Regions from separate parts of the Homo sapiens genome. Here region 1 is linked to region 2. The links come from fine-mapping of genetic effects on gene expression. A gene starts in region 2. The other region holds a variant in brackets. All regions are shown on one strand. Distances are between the middles of the regions.

What was found.
Region 1: its variant is fine-mapped to the expression of ASAH1 in whole blood (INTERVAL, PIP above 0.99). The same link has a PIP of 0.9 or more in blood mononuclear cells.

What each region holds. Positions count from the first base shown.
Region 1 is chr8:18,047,602-18,058,893 of GRCh38, reverse strand. ASAH1 (N-acylsphingosine amidohydrolase 1) reads left to right here. Exons shown (of 14, transcript NM_177924.5): 13 at 3-59; 14 at 1,271-2,902. The coding sequence ends at 1,360. Among named protein-coding and RNA genes, the nearest start is that of ASAH1, 31 kb to the left of the region's middle. RefSeq lists an enhancer at 4,705-5,278. The variant C/T (reference allele first, on the strand shown) is at 4,498.
Region 2 is chr8:18,079,615-18,091,018 of GRCh38, reverse strand. ASAH1 (N-acylsphingosine amidohydrolase 1) reads left to right here and starts at 6,912. Exons shown (of 14, transcript NM_177924.5): 1 at 6,912-7,038. The coding sequence starts at 6,961. ASAH1-AS1 (ASAH1 antisense RNA 1) reads right to left here and starts at 6,151. Exons shown (of 5, transcript NR_125429.1): 1 at 6,080-6,151; 2 at 5,534-5,777; 3 at 4,083-4,136; 4 at 3,882-3,994. It also overlaps the pseudogene MRPS18CP3 and the pseudogene ABRAXAS1P2. RefSeq lists enhancers at 5,930-6,465, 6,266-6,545, 7,346-7,455 and a silencer at 6,796-6,995.

The DNA.
Region 1 (11,292 bases), 32 kb after region 2:
AGAATATCTCATTTGAAACCATGTATGATGTCCTGTCAACAAAACCTGTCCTCAACAAGGTATTTTAAATGTTATATGTATATTTGCCTTTTAGGGAAAGAATTTGGCCCTATGTTTTATCTTTCTCTGTTATCTTTGATCAGTTTGAGCACAAAAGGTGTGTTCAGCTTAGGACTGATTTTTTATTAAAAAATGTTTTTGTGTGGCTAAAACTGTATTTTGGAATACAAGAAAGAAATTGATCACTGAGGCTTGATAGGTCAGAATATTGTTTATAGCTTTATTTACATAGCATTTGAATTAAGGCTAGCATTTTACTCTTATTGGTATCTATTAAAAATCTCACACTATATAACTAACACCTAAATGTCAACAAAACAAAGTCTGCAGTCCATTTTCAGACAGAGCTCTGTGTCTTGGTGGGTTCGGGTTTCCCTTAAACTTTACTACATCTGTTTATCTTTTCCCTACACTGTAGTTTTAAAAAAATGCAAAAAGTTTCCTATCATCCCACCACTCGCTAACAATCATTCCCTGAACGTTCTGAATATGCCCCCCTAATTTTCCCATTTGTTCCTTCTTTTCTTGGTCCTTCTCCACAGCTCTCCCTAAAGTAAACATGCCGCCTTTACCCTGCCAGGACAAATCCCTCCGGCCTTTAGCATCCAGGTCACCCTGGCTCTCACAGGAAGCCTGCCTTCAGTTCACGGGCCCTGCCATACTTGCGTTTTGCCTATACCATCTTTGAGCAAGTCACAATCTCGTGACTTGTGTTTGGGTGTGTGCCTTGTGATCTGGGTGCCTGCAGTTTCCCCCACTGTATTGGAAATGCTTTAAGGATAGGGATAGCCAAAGCTCCACGGTTTTTACTCCATAGGACACCGGCAGGTCTCCCAGGACTGCCAGCTGTGCGTCAAGGAGGGTTAAGGCAGTCTTAAAGCATTGGGGGTGGAGCAATGTGCTGTCAGGAATAAGCTCCTATAAGGAGCTGGAGATTCTTTCCTGAGCCTGTTTATATTCATTACCTGAAACAGTGATCCTGTTGAAGTTGTTTGCTTTAGTTATTTGGTGAGACTTTAGCTAATTTTATATGATTATACTATATTAATATAAATATATACATTATATAACATGCTTTGCATATATTAAGTTATATTATTTAATATTAAATAACTTCTAAAGCAAATTCTACAAGTATAGAAATGCTAATATATATCAGAACATCTCTGAATTGAAAACGTCCTTAAAGTAAAAATAACTTTTCTTTCAGCTGACCGTATACACAACCTTGATAGATGTTACCAAAGGTCAATTCGAAACTTACCTGCGGGACTGCCCTGACCCTTGTATAGGTTGGTGAGCACACGTCTGGCCTACAGAATGCGGCCTCTGAGACATGAAGACACCATCTCCATGTGACCGAACACTGCAGCTGTCTGACCTTCCAAAGACTAAGACTCGCGGCAGGTTCTCTTTGAGTCAATAGCTTGTCTTCGTCCATCTGTTGACAAATGACAGATCTTTTTTTTTTCCCCCTATCAGTTGATTTTTCTTATTTACAGATAACTTCTTTAGGGGAAGTAAAACAGTCATCTAGAATTCACTGAGTTTTGTTTCACTTTGACATTTGGGGATCTGGTGGGCAGTCGAACCATGGTGAACTCCACCTCCGTGGAATAAATGGAGATTCAGCGTGGGTGTTGAATCCAGCACGTCTGTGTGAGTAACGGGACAGTAAACACTCCACATTCTTCAGTTTTTCACTTCTACCTACATATTTGTATGTTTTTCTGTATAACAGCCTTTTCCTTCTGGTTCTAACTGCTGTTAAAATTAATATATCATTATCTTTGCTGTTATTGACAGCGATATAATTTTATTACATATGATTAGAGGGATGAGACAGACATTCACCTGTATATTTCTTTTAATGGGCACAAAATGGGCCCTTGCCTCTAAATAGCACTTTTTGGGGTTCAAGAAGTAATCAGTATGCAAAGCAATCTTTTATACAATAATTGAAGTGTTCCCTTTTTCATAATTACTCTACTTCCCAGTAACCCTAAGGAAGTTGCTAACTTAAAAAACTGCATCCCACGTTCTGTTAATTTAGTAAATAAACAAGTCAAAGACTTGTGGAAAATAGGAAGTGAACCCATATTTTAAATTCTCATAAGTAGCATTCATGTAATAAACAGGTTTTTAGTTTGTTCTTCAGATTGATAGGGAGTTTTAAAGAAATTTTAGTAGTTACTAAAATTATGTTACTGTATTTTTCAGAAATCAAACTGCTTATGAAAAGTACTAATAGAACTTGTTAACCTTTCTAACCTTCACGATTAACTGTGAAATGTACGTCATTTGTGCAAGACCGTTTGTCCACTTCATTTTGTATAATCACAGTTGTGTTCCTGACACTCAATAAACAGTCACTGGAAAGAGTGCCAGTCAGCAGTCATGCACGCTGATTGGGTGTGTACATCTGTGTTGGTTTGGAGGAGGGGGGTTATTATCAAGAAATACAAGCTGAACATCGTATCTGAATTAAATAACAAGGGTTATGTAAGTGGGTTATTAAATATGACTAAACGGTCACAATCTTACTCTTACATGACTGATACCACCTCTTAACCAGATACTATCAACCCAATTTGCAGGTGTTTAAAGGCAGTTTTTCCCCCAGATAGGTGGTGCTTCCACAAAACTTTAGTGATTCCAAGATTACTTTAGTGAAACGAGGAATTATAAGAGGATTTACATTAAAATAGGATTTAATTAATGAAAAAAAAACTTTACTCAGATTTTCTACCTCTTACATAAATGAAGTCAGGTCAACTTGATGTATTTTTTTGTTAATGTAATAACCTTTGATATGCCTGATAGTAAAGAGGTGAGATGCTAATTGTTTCAGACCGATTTCTCCGGAGTAAATCAAAGTTTACAAGAAATAACAGGTATTAAGATTTTAGGAAGTAATTGTTTAGTGGTAAAGCAGTTTTAAAATAGGATATACAGGATGAGCCTGTTTATATAACACTTTATATATGTACTTATGCATAACTAGATACACATCTAGAATATCAAAAGATGACTGGGAGGATATTAACCAAAATGCTGACTGTAGTTCCTACTGGATAATGGCAAGTGCTATTTTAATTTTGAGAGGACAAAACTTAGTAGCCATTGGACATTAATGAGACTCTATTTTTAGAAATACTATAAAAAAATAAGGTCCAGGTTGGATCCAAACCATGGGCTCCATCTAATTTCCCTGCCAAGTTTTCGGGAGTTTGATTGTGAATGGAAGGCTGAATCCTACCTGTATTCCTTCACACATCGAGCTCCTCAGTCACTCATCTTAATTAGAGCTCTTGCTTATCCATTTATGTACCAGGCCTTGTGATTGATAAGGTGCTTGACCTAGATTACCTCCTCAGCAAACCCCGGTATCACTTGTAATCACACTTGCCAGCCATGGAAGTAACTTGCTGAAAGTTGCATTAACAGAAGGGCTTAGAGCCAGGGTTTTAGCCAGGTCTGTCCAACTCCTGCGCTCTTATGACACCCGAATTCTTGACTTTACAAGTAGGATTGAGAAACAGCTCTGTCCTATGAGACCCACACTTCTGCTGCCATGGACCAGGCCACCCTGCTGAGCCTGGACACCACTGTGTCACTGCCTTCTACTTGTTCTGTGTCAATTATTAATGTTCCCATAGGGATCAGAAACCCTTTGGTGTTAGGAGCTGACAGGTCACCTGTTTTTGACTACCCTGAGTCTGAATCGTGCTCAGCTTGTGGGGAATGCGTTAAGAGCTCCTCAGTCTTTCTGTGGCTGTGACCCAGGAGTACGTGAAAAATATGAATAGTTCAGAAATTTATAAAAAGTCACTATAAAACCTCACACAGTCATTATTGAAGTTAGTCTCACAAAGTGAAGCATAGTTTTTGTTTATTGGTGACAATTTACAAAATACTTGCCAGCTTAGCCTCACATATGACAGATGTGACCAGCAGGCTCCAGACCACACCGAGCTGCATGCTGGCCCCGTCTACAAGCCTGGGGAAGTGTGGCTGGGCTCCTCAACCTTCACAACTTGGGGAGGTTGCTCAGCTCACATGAAAATCAGTCCTCTCTTTTTCCCTAGGGCACTCTGTCCCTCTTATGTTGATAAAGTGGGTTTCCCAGCCAGGTGGCACAGGGGATGCTAGACTGGTGTGCGTTGGGCAATTCTCTGTGGCAGTTCTGGACATCTTCAAGGATGCTTGTCTAGGCAGAGGACAGATTTGTTTCCTGACTACGGTAATAAAGATCATCATCTACCTGTAGGGCAAAGGTTGGATGAGTTGATTGGAGAAGCAGCCCATCTTATAACTCGAGGGGTTTCCTGAGCTTGGGGTTCCTCAGCTGTGATACAGATGATACATCATAAATTGGGTTGTCACACATCACCTCCTTGGGGGACTTGGGGTGGGGGGCAAATGGCATTCCCAGAG[C/T]AATACAGTCCTTTGCCTTTGGCCCAGGAGTCTGCCAGCATCCAGGAAGCTGTGGCAGGCTAGGTCATTAGCTTGCAAGCAGGGTAAAATCTCAGGCCCTTCACAGGGCCGCAGCTTTGGGGCAGCTGGGCAGGGTCTAGGCATACCAGCCTCCAGGCTGCCTCCCACAGCCCGGGCTTCCTCTGGGGCTCCTTGAAGGGCAGACTGGGACAGTGATACGGTTTGGGCCTGTGTCCTCACCCAAATCTCATCTCGATTTGTCAAGGGAGGGACCAGGTGGAGTTGATTGGAGCATGGGGGTGGTTTCCCCCATGCTGTTCTCGTGATAGCTAGTGAGCTCTCACGAGAGCTGATGGTTTTAAAGTGTGGTGCTTCCTGGTTCTCCGACTTGCTTCTCTCCTGCCTTGTGAAGGCGTCGTCTCCCGCCCTCTTGCCTTCTGCCACGATTGTCAGTTTCCTGAGGCCTCCCCAGCCATGCGGAACTGTGAGTCGATTAAACCTCTTTACTTTATAACTTAGCAGTGCGAAAACGGACTAATACAGACAGAGTGGGATAGACTGCATCCCTCTGTGTTCTCACAGGCTGGGAAGGGAGGTGTGGGGCATGCAAGGTATGGAGAAAGTTAGTAAAAATCACTGGCCCTGTGGACCAGAAGAGACCTGGGCCAACTAGGTTTTGCCTCTGTCAAATACAAAATCCTCATAAGGAAACTTAACCATTCAGCCCTCACTGGGGGCCCCCCCAATTGTTTTTCACCAAGACCCAAACTTGGCTTGGTCGTCCCGGTCGTCAGTGGCAGCAATAACACCTGGAACTTGTTGCTCCCATTGCAAGGTTGAGCAATAGCAGCTGGCCTGCAGATCTCACAGACAAGCGGCCTGTGGCACAACTGGAGTTTATGTTCCAGGTGCGCAGAATGCCGCACACAGCCCTGCTGCAGAGGTGGGAGGGAGGCGCATAGGCACTGCGGTCTCCTGGTGGATTCAGCTCCAGGCAGCATCCCAAACATTCACTTCACATGTATCTGATTACTGTGTCCATTTGTAGCTGACAGGCCAATTTGGAGGCATCTCAGCTGGCTGCCTATGACTGTTGTTAACAATTCAAGTGCTTTCTGCAAAATAGGGCATTGTTATTTTAAAATACTTCATTGGAATTTTTTGTTTTGTTTTGTTTTGTTTTGTTTTTTTGAGACAGAGTCATGCTCTGTTGCCCAGGCTGGAGTGGTCCAGTGGCGCCATCTCGCCTCACGGCAGCCTCCACCTCCCAGGTGCAAGCAATTCTCCTGCTTCATCCTCCAGAGTAGCTGGGATTACAGGTACCCACCACCACGCCCAGCTAAATTTTGTATTTTTAGTAGAGACGGAGTTTCACCGTGTTGGCCAGGCTGATCTCGAACTCCTGACTTCAAGTGAGCCGCCCGCCTTAGCCTCCCAAAGTGCTGGGGTTACAGGCGTGAGCCACCATGCTTGGCCGATATGGCAATTTTGATTGAATTCAAAACTCTTCCCAAGATAATTTAGTAGTACATGTATCAATGAAAGTTAAATAAAAATTAGTTTTCAAATATAATTCCAATTTCTGTAAATTCTTGAATGCTTGTACAACACTGCTTTAAATTTATCACTCAATTAGGCATACAAATTGATCCTTAATGATTTTTCAAAAATTTGAGGAGATCATAAAGTCTCGGCCAAGAATTGTGTATAACAATTTCAAATAGAAAATAGGTTATAAAAACACGTTAAGAAAATGGCCGGGCTCTGTGACTCACGCCTATAATCCTAGCACTTTGGGAGGCAGAGACGGGTGGATTGCCTGAACTCGGGAGTTCAAGACAAGCTTGGGTAACATGGTGAAACCCTGTCTCTACTAAAATACAAAAAATCAGCTTGGCAAGGTGCCGGGCGTCCGTAATCCCAGCTACTCAGGAGGCTGAGGCACGAGAATTGCTTGAACCCAGGAGGCGGAAGTTGCAGTGAGCCAAGATCATGCCACTCCACTCCAGCCTGGGCAAGAAAGTGAAACTCTGTCCAAAAAAAAAAAAAAAAAAGTCTATAGTTTTGCATTTTTATGTGTAATATCTCCCCTGATGCTTTATCTTCTGTTCATTACTTAGACATTTCATAATTAATATAAAGAAAATGTAATGAATTTTTCACCAAGTCCATATATCCCCTCTCGTTTACAAACACTATCCTTTTCAGTATGTACTGGGACATACAAACAGGCCAAAAGGTAACAAATCTCACATTGTTTCCATTGCTTCATCACCAGCCTGGGTGACCAGCGACACATGACTTAACTCCTTGCATCCCCATATCTGCCTTTGTAAAATGAGGGTTTAGATCCAATTTTCTCTAAGGATTCCTCTAGCTTGATAAATCTAGATTTAAATTGTGTCTCAGTTGCGCAGGGAATCCAGTAGCAGCCGACACCCAGGTGTGGTTGGACTCGTCAGAACCATTGTAGTCTTTGTTAGTCATACACATGCATGGGTGAAATCTAGTCAAAACTTTCATATCAAGTATTTCAAAATGATGCTCTACTTGGCAGAAAGCACATGCAGTTTGGGCAGTCACGGGCAGGTAGCCAAGATGCCTCCAAAGTGGCCTGTGAGCTGCAAATGACAGTTTCTACATGTATAACATATACAAAATATGATGTATATTTTAGTAGAGATGGAGTTTCATACATATATACAATTTATATATACACATATATATATAATTTGTACACACACACACAGATTTACAGTAAATATGTTTAAATTTGAAACCATAGTACCTGAGTTCAATGCCAACCCTCACTGAATGTCAGAAAAACATAGTAAGGCTGTGCATGGTGGCTCACACCTGTAATCCCAGCTCTTTGGGAGGCCAAGGCAGGAGCATCACGTGAGGCCAGAAGTTTGAGACCAGCCTGGGCAACATAGTGAGACTTGATGTATACTAAAAATCAAAAAATAACTAGCTAGGCTTTGCAGCATGCACCTGTGTCCCAGCTACTCAGGAGGCTGAGGCGGGAGGAGCACTTGAGCCTGGGAGATGGAGGCTGCGGTGAGCTGTGATCGCGCCACTGCACTCAAGCCTGGGTGACAGAGCAAGATTCTGTCTCAATTAAAAAGAAAAAAAAAGACATTTACATTATGCTCTATGATAGTCTAGTGGCCTACACAAATTCTGCTCTTCCCATGTTGTGGATATGAAATAATGAGGCAGGGTTGATAGCATTATTTCAAAATATTATAAGAAGTAGCAGTTCTAAGAAGTCAACTGCAAGGCTATGCATGTCCAAGGCTGTGTGTGGGTGAGTGAAATCGCCTTATGCCAAGGAGCCATAACCAAGGGGAAATTACTTGATGCATACACCAGTTCTTGCTTTTCACCTGCTCGGTACAATGGACCATACATATTACCAAATGGAATAAGTAAGACTTTTCATCTTAGTTACTGAGAAAAAGTATTCCTTGGTAAAGCAAACACCCAGTGATTGGCTCTGTTATTAAAGAATTAAGTTTACTGTCTTACTATAGAAAATCAAGTTTCAGTAGTTGAGTTTCATTACATTTTTGTTTCTGATTGTTACAGTTGCTGGGTGGGAACAATGTGTAAAGTTTTCACTTGTTTGCTTTCAAGGGTACTGACTTCATAATATATAGACATATACACACACACACATATACACACACACATATTCATGTGTGTGTGTGTATATGTCTCTGTCAAAGACACATATGCAGTAGTTTTTAAGTTATTACATTCATTGCCAATGAGCAATGGTGTATATAGGGGAAGATGAACTTGAGACTTGTTCTGGTGTTGTCTCTGGCACTCAGTTTTCCTATATTTAAAATGTGAAGGAAGTAAGGCACTATGAAAGATCTTTGATATCTGCAAAATTTTTAGGGCTGTCAAAGACAAGGGACTGTGAAAAGTTGACAGCCCTTTGTTGTTTGACTGGGTTTTTTAACCAAAAGAATATAGAAATCTATAGCGATCATATTAATATGTATTGAATAATACTACTGTCTTATAGACCAGATAAAAATTAATATTTTTAAAATCATTCTCCATGTGGAAAATCTGCTATAGCCAAAATAATCTAATAATATTAAAAATATTTCCCTATCATCTCCTTAAGTTCTCAATATGCTAAAAGCTAATATGATGGATTTTTAAAAATCTTAAGTGGTTGTTTAGGAAAAGTTATTATAGTTCTTATTTTTTTTAATCATATAATTGATAGACTGTTCTTCTGGATCCAAGATTTCAAGGGCTGAGTACAGGTGCTTAGTTAACTTGCATTTCTTTTTTCAACTTAGCTACGTAAGAACAGTGACAAATCTAGCATTAAAAATATACAAGAGCGGCCAAGCATGGTGGCTCACGCCTGTAATCCTAACTTTGGCAGGCCGAGGCAGGTGGATCGCCTGAGCTCAGGAGTTCGAGACCAGCCTGGGCAACGCGGAGAAACCCCATGTCTACTAAAATACAAATATTAGCTTGGCGTGGTGGCGGGCACCTGTAATCCCAGCTACTGGGGAGGCTGAGGCAAGAGAATCGCTTGAACCCAGGTGGCAGAGGTTGCAGTGAGCCAAGATTGTGCCACTGCACTCCAGCCTGGGCAACAGAGCGAGACTGTGTCTCAAAAAAATAAAATATACACAAGCTAATAAAAAAATTAAAGTGGATTATTAGAATCATGACCAAAGCAATTGTTATTTGGTGTATCATTCTGTATAAAATACTTTAAAATTTTAAAATATCTGTAGATGTGCCAAAATAGTGATAATACAAGTGTAAGGTTTTTTTAATTTTAATTTTGTTTTTCCATAAATTATTGCGGTACAGGTGGTATTTGGTTACATAAGTTTTTAGTGGTGAATTGAGAGATATTGGTGCACCCATCACCCGAGCAGTATATACTGCACTGTATTTGTTGTCTCTTATCCCTCGCCCCCCTCCCACTCTTCCCCCCAAGTCCCCAAAGTCCATTGTATCATTCTTATGCCTTTGCATCCTCATAGCTTAGCTATCACATATCAGCGAGAACATATGATGTTTGGTTTTCCATTCCTGAGTTACTTCACTTAGAATAATAGTCTCCAATCTCATCCAGGTCACTGCAAATGCTGTTAACTCATTCATTTTTATGGCTGAGTAGTATTCCATCATATGTGTGTGTGTGTGTGTGTGTGTGTGTATATATATATATACACACACACACACACACACACACACATACCACAGTTTCTTTATCCAATTGTTGATTGATGGGCATGTGGGTTGGTTCCACGATTTTGCGATTGTGAAATGTGCTGCTATAAACGTGTGTGCAAGTATCTATTTCGAATATGACTTCTTTTCCTCTGAGTAGATACCCAGTAGTGGGATTGCTGGATCAAATGGTGGTTCTACTTTTAGCTCTTTAAGGAATCTCCACACTGTTTTCCATAGTGGCTGTACTAGTTTACATTCCCACCAGTAGTGTAGAAGTGTTTTCTGCTCACTGCATCCATGCCAACATCTACCATTTTTGATTCTTTGATTATGACCATTCTTGCAGGAGTAAGGTGGTATCGCATTGTGGTTTTGATTTGCATTTCCCTAATCTTTAGTGATGTTGAGTATTTTTTCATATGTTTGTTGGCCGTGTGTATATCTTCTTTTGAGAATTGTCTATTCATGTCCTTAGCCCACTTTTTGACAGGATTGTTCTTTTCTTACTGATTTGTTTGGGTTGGTTGGAGATTCTGGATATTAGTCCACTGTCAGATGTATAGATTGTGAAGATTTTCTCCCACTCTGTGTGTTGTCTGTTTACTCTGCTGACTGTTCCTTTTGCTGTGCAAAAGCTCTTTAGTTTAATTAGGTCCCAGCTATTTATCTTTGTTTTTATTGCAATTGTTTTTGGGTTTTTGATCATGAAATCCTGGCCTAAGCCAGTGTCGAGAAGGGTTTTTCCAATGTTGTCTTCTAGAATTTTTATAGTTTCAGGTTTTAGGTTTAAGTCGTTAATCCAACTTGAGTTGATTTTTCTATCAGGTGAGAGATGAGGATCCAGTTTCATTCTCATACATGTGGCTAGCCAATTATCCCAGCACCATTTGTTGAAAAGGGTGTCCTTTCCCCACTGTGTTTTTGTTTGCTTTGTTGAAGATCAGTTGGCTGTAAGTATTTGAGTTTATTTCTGGGTTCTCTATTCTATTCCTTTGGTCTATGTGCCTATGACAAATTTATTTAGAAGAAATATTTTCTTATCTTTTCATGCTTTGCTTTAGATATTGCTACAAACTTTATTTAATAGTAATTTTAAATTTTGACTAGTAAAGTTATGTGAACCATGTACGGCAAAATAAAGGATTTCACTTAGACTTGTTTGCAGAGATAGCACCTTAAGCTTCCATTAGATCTGTTTTTATCAGCTCATCTTATCTCTGAGCTACCTGACACTTTATCTGTCTCATCAGGTACAATCATTTAAAAACCACTGAGCTAGGTTATCTTAAAATTTTCTTTAAAATATGCAAATAATATATTTATCTTTTTTGATAAAACATTTAACAAACAGAAGTCTCCCCTTTACTTCACTCTTCGAAATTCCACTCCCCTCCCCAGAGGTAACCTCTTACCCATATTCTCTGTTTGGCTCTGCGTTCATGTTTGTTTGTGTTTGAGATGGAGTCTCACTTTGTCACCTACGCTGGAGTCTCACTCTGTCACCTAGGCTGGAGTGCAGTGGCACGATCTGGGCTCATTGCAACCTCCGCCTCCCCAGTTCAAGCGATTCTC
Region 2 (11,404 bases):
TTCACAGCCATTACGTTATAACGTCATGATTTTAAAGTCTGTTGGTGACGTGCCACTTTGGGAAGATGTGGTCAAAGGCAGCAACTACTTTCACGTCCACTGTTGTCATTCAAGGCTTGCTGCAGTAGAATTACCAGTGTGGGCAGGCATATCTACTACTGTGGGGAGGCAGATCTGAATGAAAGCGCCAGAAGAGAGGCCAGGCCACGCACGTTCTGTGACCTTTTCAACTATTTACTGATTAGATACATCATACATCTCTCCTTCCCTAGGGAGACATGAATGGAGGAGACGGCAGAGAAAGGTGGACATTTTCTTCCAACAACATCTGATGCTAGATCCAGGTTTGGTGACACCTGAATCTTATGCAATTTAAGTGGTCCTCCTTAAGGAAAAGAATACAAAATTACAAGCATAAAATTTAGTAAAAGGTTGGGAAGGGGCATGAGCAAGTGAAGGTACTAAAACTTAAAGTTCATAGATTTGTTGTACATCCTTCTCAACAAAGGAGAAATGTCTATTTTCATGTGTGTATCAGTTAGGATGCTCTCAGATACAATAATTTAACTTGTAAGCAAACCAACTTGTCCAAGATTCAATAACAGAGTAGTGGCTGATGTAAATCAAGAGTCCAGTTGTTGGACAGGATCTGTGGTTGGTTGATCTAGCATCTTGACAATGTCATCAATGACCCAGTTTCTTTCCATCTTTCTACTGTGTAGTCCACAGTATCAATTTCATCTTAGGTGGCTCCCTTCAGGTTTATAGCATGCATGCCAGCAGCAATGGGGATTCCTAGCTTCCTCTTTCATATTAGAAGGGAGAAGACAAGGCCAAGCATGGTGGCTCACGCCTGTAACCCCAGCACTTTGGGAGGCTGAGGCGGGTGGATCACCTGAGGTCAGGAGTTCGAGACCAGCCTGGCTGACATGGTGAAACCTCGTCTCTACTAAAAATACAAAAAATTAGCTGGGCATGGTGGTGGGCGCCTGTAATCCCAGCTACTTGGGAGGCTGAGGCAGGAAAATTGCTTGAATCCGGGAGGCAGAGGTTGCAGTGAGCCAAGATCGGGCCACCTCACTCCAACTTGGGTGACAGAGCTAGACTCCATCTCAAAAAAAAAAAAAAAAGAATAGCATTACTGATTCCCAAATAGATGATGCTGAAGTTGTTTATACAATTGACATTCAGAAATATATTCCATGCTATCAGTTTTTTAGTTTTTATAATTCTTCAGGTGAAGTAAATAAGCAGGCACTGAGGAAAATATTATCAAATTCACAAAAAATGTGGTAGGTTGTTACAAATTCCATCGTCATTCAGATCAGATCATGACATTTAGAGAGAGGCTGCTTCACAAAAACTTGCAGGAGCATTTTTCAAACCAAGACCTGGTTTTTCTGCTATGAACACCAAGTATAATAACAGAAAGCCGCTCTACTCATCGACTGGAACATGCCTTATATAAACCTCGAAAAGGACTTTTTCACAGGGTACCTTCAGTGGTTGCCAATCTGGGCATGTCTGAACAACTAGGTTATAAAACTGTATCAGGTTCCTGTATGTCCACTGGTTTTAGCCGAGCAGTACAAACACACAGCTCTAAATTTTTTGAAGAAGATGGATCCTTAAAGGAGGTACATAAGATAAATGAAATGTATGCTTCATTGTAAGAGAAATTAAAGAGTATATGCAAAAAAGTGGAAGACAGTGAACAAGCAGTAGATAAACTAGTAAAGGATGTAAACAGATTAAAACGAGAAATTGAAAAAAGGAGATGAGCCCAGATTCCAGCAGAACGAGAGAAGAGCATCCAAAAAAGACCCTCAGGAGAACATTTTTCTTTGTCAAACATTATGGACCTTTTTTCCAGATTCTGAATTCTTCATGCATGTGTTATGTCTTTAAAAAAACAGACATGTTTCTAAAGGTAGCTCTAACAACCACCACCATCTCGATGTAGTAGACAATCTGACCTTAATGGTAGAAAACACTGACATTCCTGAAGCTAGTCCAGCTAGTACACCACAAATGGTTAAGCATAAAACCTTAGACTTAGCTGACAGATGGCAGTTCAAGAGATGACGGCGGACGGATCACGAGGTCAGGAGATCGAGACCATCCTGGCTAACACAGTGAAACCCCATCTCTAATACAAAAAAATTGGCTGGGCGCGGTGGCTCACGACTATAATCCCAGCACTTTGGGAGGCCAAGGTGGGCGGATCAGGAGGTCAGGAGACAGAGACCATCCTGGCTAACATGGTGAAACCCTGTCTCTATTAAAATACAAAAAATTAGCCCGGCGTGGTGGCAGGTGCCTGTAGTCCCAGCTGCTTGGGAGGCTGAGGCAGGAGAATGGTGTGAACCCAGAAGGCGGAGCTTGCAGTGAGCTGAGATCCTGCCACTGCACTCCAGCCTGGGCTACAGAGGAATACTTCGACTCAGGAGAAAAAAAAAAAAAAAAAAGAGTGTTCACGGCTGTTAGACACACAAGACAAACCATCTAAAACAGATACTGATAGTAGTAACCAATAAAAAAGCATCCAAAATGAGCAGCCCAGAAACAGATGAAGAGATTGAAAAGATGAAGGTTTTGGTGAATATTCACGGTCACCTACATTTTGATCCTTTTAACCTTAAAAGGAGATTTTTTTAATTTGGCTGATGGGTAAAGTCAAACATTTCCATTGTTTTTACTAGGTTGAGCTACTTGCAGTAATACAGGTAAGTTCATTTGTTTTTACTATATTCACCTCTTTGCAGTAATCCACAGATAAGTCTTAGTGCATTTATTTTACAAAGTACTTTTTCAAACATCAGATCCTTTTATTTCCAAACCTTTTTTCGCCTTTCAATAAGTTGTTGAGGGAAAGGCTTACACACATTCTTTAGAATTGGAAAAGTGAGGCCAGGCACAGTGGCTCACAGCTGTAATCCCAGCACTTAGGGAAGACAAGGCAGGAATGATTGAGGCCAGGAGTTAGAGACCAGCCTGGGCAACACAGTGAGACCCATCTCTATTAAAAAAAAAAAAAAAGTATTAGAAAAGCTAGAATAGCCTTATTTTCACAATGTGGAAAGAAATTTATATGAAATTTATCTGAGTCATTAAAATTATCCTTAGGTGATAATTTTTTAGAAGTACATTACAGCTAGTGTTGCCAGATAAAATGCTGGATCTCACGCAGTACCTTTGCAAAACATGATCTAAAATTTAAATTTGTCCTACATTTGTACTTGCTAAATCTGGCAGCCTTAATTATTACACAACTATAACGCAACACAAACAATAATCTCTCCCCTAGTTTAGAGTCCTTTGCACGAAATTTAGCAAATCCTTAATTTTGAGTACAGTACAAGCCTGGTAATCCAGTGTGTTTGGGATAGGCTGGTGGAACTCAGAACTGATACATATATACATACATGTCTATCACATTCACTGTCTATTAGGTGTAAATCATCTTTTTATGTAAAAGACACTACTGGTTTGAGGATAGAGTTGTCTAGGAATGTTTTGTCCTGCTGTGACAGCATCACTATGCATCCCAGTGTAACATTCCTACAAAGGGAAGATCTCTTAACCAGGCATACTTACATTTGCTAGTTAGAAAACCATTCTGAGCAGTTTTAACTCCATTCAGTTGAATGGTGTACTACATTGTATGAGCTATTTGTGGACCAGATATAAATGACTATCACCCAGAACCACTTTCATTCAACATATGTAAAATGTGATGAGTGTTAACATTTTAAATAAGCGATCTGCTTAATGAACACTGATTGGTATGAAGGGGAAGTGTCATTCTTTACCTCACTCCTGAAACACTTTTCTATCCAAAGGTTGGTTTGAGTCAGTATTGGCGTCATACAACCACTTACTATAAAATAAGTTTACTGGTGGTAATGTGATGGAATTTATTCCGGATATCTGATGTTATAAACTTTAGGGTCCCTGAAATATGCAGGATCCTTGTATGTAACTGGCATAAACCCTGTAAAGAGATAATTAAAGTTCTTGACAAAGCATAATGAGCAAAATTTCAGCTAGCTCAATACAGTTGTTGAGGTGCTCTTTCTTACCCATTGTTTGAGCTCTCTTAATTGCTTTTGTGATTTGTTTCTTCCCACAAAGACCTGTAAAATAAAAAGCTTCCTTATTCATAAAAAAGTCAATATTTAAAGTTAAAAAAATGTTTATTTCTCAAACTGAAACATTATTTCTCTATCTCTTGACCTTTTAGTACACGTTTTTGTATATTCGGTTTTACTAAATCAAGTCAAACCTGTTCCAGGTAATGTGATGTTATACATGATAGGTTTCATTTAGGGTGGGGTGGCTAAGTTGCAACCCTTTTAAATCAAGGCTCCACCTCAGGAACCTAGGAATGTTAGGTAGGAGATGAGGAAGTCCACAGCTTGCCAAGAACTTCAGCTATTCCATAAACAATCTGATTACATATCCCGACTCTTGCACACGAAACAGGTTATCCAAGTCTTAAACTTGATGCTTTTGTGCAGTATGAACCACCCTTTCCGTGGACATAATCATGCATTTGCACATTTAAATACCATTTTCTATGAACAGATCAGTATGCCAAAAACCACTGCAAAGTCTCCTACACACACCTTGCCTTGACTTTCTGTACATTTCTAGTATTAAAGAATGGTGTAGGCAAAATAAAGATATATGTGTAAGAAAAAAAAGACATGCATGAAATGGTTTAATTTTAGGGAACTAGATTTATATTTTATCTGAAAAGAGTATTAATAATATATAATAGACCTTTGAAAGTTAGACGCATAGTTCTGCGAAAGTGGTGCCTAAGAATAGTATGTCAATTGACAAATTTTTTCCATAAAGAATCTGATTTTGCTAGACTACCTAATCACCAATTAACATCCTCCAGTAGGGAAAAAAATATGCTTGGTGACATGTTTAAATCGCTCTCAAGAGTACTGAAGATGAATGATCTTCCAATCAAGTAGCTATTTGATTTAGTAATAACAACTAAAAGATGGGAATCCTCTTCTTCGCACACTCATTTTAAGCTCCAAGGTAATTCCATAGATTCAACATTTAACACGTATATTCAATATTACACATTTTTTTTCCGGAGTGAAATGGCTCTGAATGCCTTACAGAATTTGCCCTGCTCTCCTTAACTAAATACTTTGTCTATTAATACTTCTTTCTTCTTTTCCCCTTGTTCTTTCTGTGCCAGACCCACACACGTCTGCTGTAATTGAACATGCCAGGCACATTCTCCATTTAAAGCCTTTTAACAGCTGCTGTCTCTGCCTAGAATACTCTTACTTGGGCACACACAAAACTAGCTTCCTGGTCTCCCTCAACTGTCTGCTCAAACTTCACCTCCTTAATCATGTCTATCTGTCCCTCTTATTTAAAATTGTAACTCTACCACTTCTGATCTCCACACTTGATGCCCCTGGCCTCCCTTTTCCTCCACTGCATTTGTCACTAACATCCCGTATAATTTTCTTAGGTATTATGTTTATTGCCCATTTCTCACCGAGAACATACGCCTCAGGGTGGAAGAAGTTTGTCTTTTTGTTGTTGTTCACTGCTTATCCCCAGTGTCAGGAGACATGCTTGGCACATTGTAGGTCCGCAGTAAATATTTTTTGAATTAATAAAGAATATTTCTACCATCTGCTAGCTTACTGTTCATGCAGGAGCTCAAATGTGCTTTAAGCATGTGATATGTTTCAAAAGTCAAACTTCATCCTTAGGGAGAACACTGTCATCTTCTCCTCCTTTAAAAAAAAAAAATAGGAAAAAAAGCAAAACAAAACATCACCTTCTCATTTCCCCACCTCCAACAAAAAGAGTGTTGAGTTTTCTAAAGAAATAATACAAATGGATAAAACTGCAATTTGTTGTCCTTTCTCTCACATGCAAAAAGAAAAGAAAAAATACTGCCGAGATTTCGGCAGCGTGCTGAGCTTCATCAAAGCATTAAAACAATGCTGCTTGAGACGTCAGAGGCTCATCCAGGAAGTGCAACCCAGAGGGCAGGATTTCCTGCTGGACTTTGAAATCCAACCCGGTCACCTACCCGCGCGACTGTGTCCACGGATGGCACGAAAGCCAAGCGAGTCCCCCTGCCGAGCTACTCGCGTCCGCCTCCTCCCAAGCTGAGCTCTGCTCCGCCCACCTGAGTCCTTCGCCAGTTAGGAGGAAACACAGCCGCTTAATGAACTGCTGCATCGGGCTGGGAGAGAAAGCTCGCGGGTCCCACCGGGCCTCCTACCCAAGTCTCAGCGCGCTTTTCACCGAGGCCTCAATTCTGGGATTTGGCAGCTTTGCTGTGAAAGCCCAAGTGGGTAACCAACAGCTTGGAGGACCCGAGTGGATTCGATTCTCTCTCACTCCTCGGCCACTCAACTGCTCCTTGTCCCTGACTCCGCGGTGGGGATGAATAACTCAACTCATTTCGGGCCGCTTTTCTCAGAGGGCAAAGATGGGTCAGGGTGGGATGTTACATTAGTGTTGAGACTCTTTGGATCCGTTTCGTGGGTACCGAGGACGCCTGGGTACGCGGGACAGGCTGCACCCGCCTGCTAGAGGCGCCCCATCGAGGCGCCACGGGTGAAGCTCCCGGCCCCACCTACGGGGCGGGGCTCCGGCTCGGTCCGACTATTGCCCGCGGTGGGGGAGGGGGATGGATCACGCCACGCGCCAAAGGCGATCGCGACTCTCCTTCTGCAGGTAGCCTGGAAGGCTCTCTCTCTTTCTCTACGCCACCCTTTTCGTGGCACTGAAAAGCCCCGTCCTCTCCTCCCAGTCCCGCCTCCTCCGAGCGTTCCCCCTACTGCCTGGAATGGTGCGGTCCCAGGTCGCGGGTCACGCGGCGGAGGGGGCGTGGCCTGCCCCCGGCCCAGCCGGCTCTTCTTTGCCTCTGCTGGAGTCCGGGGAGTGGCGTTGGCTGCTAGAGCGATGCCGGGCCGGAGTTGCGTCGCCTTAGTCCTCCTGGCTGCCGCCGTCAGCTGTGCCGTCGCGCAGCACGCGCCGCCGGTGAGTGAGCTTGAGCCGAGGCGCAGAGAGGGGCGTGCAGGTGCGGGCGCGGATGGAGGCGCAGGTGTGGCGGCGCGAGCGGGTACAAGGAACACCTCGTGCTGGGCAGCTTCTTTACGGGGGTCTGTGGTTTCGTGCACAGGGGTGTGGGTGCAGAGCGGGCTGGCGAACCCCGTCCTCGGTAGATTCGGTGCTACCTGCAACTAGAACTCCTTTAAAGGAAATCCTAGTCTCTGCAGGATACCTGGGTGTGATTCGCACATTCTTAGATTTGAGTGAGTGTACTTGAATAACCAGTTCCAGGCCCTTGCATTTTGAAGTGTTTAAATAAAATGTTCCGGTGGACCTGTGTGCATTACTCAATCAAGGACAGACTGCCTGATGGTCAGGTGCTTTCTCCCGAAGAAGTTCAGGAGTTCAGCCCAGGATACTGCAGGGCCGTGGGAAACGCTGAGTGGTCCCAAGCTTGGGCGGTGCGAGCAGCCCAGAGCAGGCCCCAAAGGGCCCCCTGTGGCCTTTTGCACCCAAGTCATGGGATCGCCTGTCCCGTGGCTCTTTCCCACGAGCAAGTCACAGGGCTACGGACTTCCTAACTGCAAGAGACAGTGAGGGACGAGCGTGACTCTTTCATTTTACAGAAGAGGAAGTAGACCTAGAGTGAGAAAATATTTAGCCAGAGGTTACACTGTTGTTTACTGAACATGCGTAACGTCCGAGCCTCTTGACGCCCAGTACTCTTTCATAATTCATTTCTTTATAAAGCAATCAGACTGCGTTTGTCTTTGCCAACAGAATCGGATAAGTAGGAACCTGGCGCATCTGGCCTGAGGCTAGATGGTGATGGTCTTGAATAGTTTAGGTAGGTTATTGAAAGTGGAAGCAAGATGTGCATTGTCTTCTTTTATACCTGTAAGGAGAAATTCTTTAAAATCATGGTGGGATATGATTTAGCCATTAAAATTGATATAATGTTCAGCAGATAAAAGTAGAATCCAGAATAGTATATACAGTTTTTCCTGTAATAGGAAAATACACAGAACATGTATGTGGACACGATTAAAGGCCTTAAAATAAAATTGCTCCATTGTGGGTAGGGAATTAATTTGCTTGACGGTAGTTGGTTTTATGGGAATTGGGAGAGACTTTGATACTTTGATACTGTCAGGGCCCTTCATTGAAAGACCACCAGGAACACACCATAAGCTGAACAAATTGGGTTTAGTGTTCTTTGAGGCAAAGGAGACCACACACCATGAGCGACGGACGGTAGGTTATAGAAAAAAACCCATTACAGAATTTGAACTTCGGTTGCATGATTTGGGGTAAGACTGAGGAACCGGGCTTTGCTGTAGATAGAATGCTGTTAGAAGGTGGGGCAATTCTGACTGAGTAAAGAAGGAACAGCCATTCTGTTTAGCACGAGAAGGGGATGTTTGGTGTTTTGTGCGTTGCAGGTGCCCTTGTTTTTGTCTGTTCTTAGAGAAAATCTTCAAGTGGCATTGCTTTGTCTTGGTGTGTCATGTCTCAGAATAATCTTATCCGACGTAGGTATCTGTGGGATTGTTGATGTCCAGGAGGAAAACAGAGCTTACCTGGCTGTGAGTGTCAGATCGGCTTGTAATAATATTGAGAGATAGCTGTGGGACTCAGAGCAGTTTCAGGTGTTGGAGGCTGTTTTTTCTTCTTTCTCAATAGCTTTATTTATTCTAGCAAAAGTATTTTGATAGCTATTTTCAGAAGAAGAATTAACAACCTCTCAATGGATATAATAGTTCTTATCTAGAACAGCGATTATCAAAGTCTAGTCTGGCCACTGGTGTCACTTTGGGAAGCTGTTTTCACAGGTTTTCAATGAAACTGGAAAAATAAGAATGCAAAACTAAAATTATTAATTTAGAATGTTAATCTTTACTCTGATTGTATGGACTTCAAGTTTTCATTGTTGCAAACGTGTTCTTAAAAATAACGGCAGAGGTAGATGTTATGTGCATGGAATTTGTTTTGTTTTAACATCTCCATTTGGCAGAATAAAAATTTGGACCCTCCTGTGCCAAGGCCTCATTAATTTTTTTTTACTGGCCTGGAAAATCCTGGGATCCATGCACTGAAGGACCTTTAGAACCTTACAGAAGTTTAGTGACTTCATTCTCTGAGAAGAATAAGCAGTTTTTCAACTGGAGTCATTATATGATAAACTATAGCCTCATGGTAACAAAAGATATTTCAAAAGTACTTTCAATAAATATGAATAATGAGAAGCAGCTTTAAATTGGAAACAAGTCATTTGATTTAGAACATCTGTAAGGATTTTTTGTGTGTTTGTTTTTGAGGCTTTTCACAATATTCCTATGTGAAGGTCCTCCTGAGTTATTCTTCATTATTGAATTTTTTAGGAGTCTATTAAGAGATGATGGTGAAGACAGTGGCACAAGAAATGTCTGGAGAGATAGCGCCAGATGACATCATCCAGGGTTCTGTAGACTCTTATTAAGGATTCAGAAATTTATCCTAAAAAATGGGAGGATCTGGAACCAGCCAATGGGAGGCCATTAGATGGTTTTAGACAAGATAACATTTTCACTTTAAAAAGATGAGTCTGGATTGGAGGTCAGCAAGGGTAGATATGAGGAGACTAGTCCAGAAAAGAAAACAGGGTGCGTTGAAGGATGGTGGCGCCAGGGGTGAGGGAGAGAAGTAGATGTTCTAGAAAAAAATCAGGAGGGCGAATGAGCTGAAGGAATCGTTGGGTGAGGATGAGGGAGTGAGGTGTCAGCGTGACCTGCACATTGCTGAAGTGCTTCGCTGGGCGAATGGTGGCATCCGTTCCAGGAAACATGGGGAGGGGAAAGCTTGGGGGCTAAAGAATGAGGATCGTTTTCATTTGGGGTGTATGTTAAATTTCAGGTGGCAGAGAGGCATCCAGCAGGCCACTCGGACTGGCACTCAGAAGAGAGACACTGAGAGTCACTGGCATAATGATATTATATTTGAAGCCCTTGGAGCAGATGAACTTACCTAGAAATAGGATAGAGAAAGAGAAGAAAAGAGAACTAGGCAAAGGCTAAGTAACTTGCACATGTATGTGTCAAGAAGAGGAGAAATTGCCAAAGTTAAAACAGGACAGGCCGGGCGCGGTGGCTCATGCCTGTAATCCCAGCACTTTGGGAGGCCAAGGTGGGCAGATCACGTGAGGTCAGGAGTTTGAGACTAGCCTGGCCAACATGGAGAAACCCTGTCTCTACTAAAAATACAAAAATTAGCTGGGCATAGTGGCTCACGCCTGTAGTCCCAGCTACTCAGGAGGCTGAGGCGGGAGAATTGCTTGAACCTGGGAGGGAGAGGTTGCAGTGAGCCAAGATCCTGCCATTGCACTCCAGCCTGGACAATGAGCGAAACTTCGTCACAGAAAACAAAAACAAAAAAATAGGAGAGTAAGTGGAACAGGAAGCTCAGGGAAGAGACTGGGACAGGTTAACTATGTTGAATATTATTGAGATGTCAGTGGTATTATGATGTTGGGCAACTGGAGGTCATTGGTCACCTCGACTGGAGCAGTGTTGGGGGCAGAAAACAGCTTGCGGTAGGCTAAGTGTGATTGGCAGGAAAGGAACTAGAGGGGAGAGATGGCTGCTCTGCGTAATAAATCTGACCCACTTCATAAGATGTGCGAAGATGAAACGTAATGGCTTAGTAATTAATTGCCAAAGTAAACTTGTAAACTCATTTTTATGCATCAGCTTCTCATACTAGTTAACAGCGTATGTCAACATTGTTGACATTAGCTATTGAATCAGCTTTAGCAATGATTTTCACGCAGTTGCCAGAAATCTCATAGACCCCATCTGGCCTAGGAATTTATTGCACTTCATCTGCTTTTCCCTACTTCTCCCAAAGAGGGAACACACAGGTGTAATCCATTCACTTATTCAACAAATACTGCTTGCCTACTATGTGCCAGACTCCTAAACGCTGGGAATGCGTCAGCCAATGAGATAGATGAGGTCCTTCCTCTCATGGAGGGTTTATTCACATTCCTTTGACCTAAATATCAGTAGCTTAATAGGATGCCATCCCATCAAAGCCCAGAAGACAAGTGAAAACATTTTCAAGCTCATGTGAATTCTTGTACACGTAGGAAACATGCCTCTTTGTATTCAGTGTTTCTGCTGAGTTGTACATAAGAGGACATTATAGGAAAAACTTGTCTGCAAAATAGTTGTTGATGAATTCAAGAATTGAATGAATGAAAAATTGTCTGGCTAGAGTTGTTTGGCTTCTGGTGGGTATGAAAACTGACATGAGGTATGTAATTTTAGATTATCCTTCATTGTCTCTTTCTGAGTATTTCAATAAGACAAGCACACAA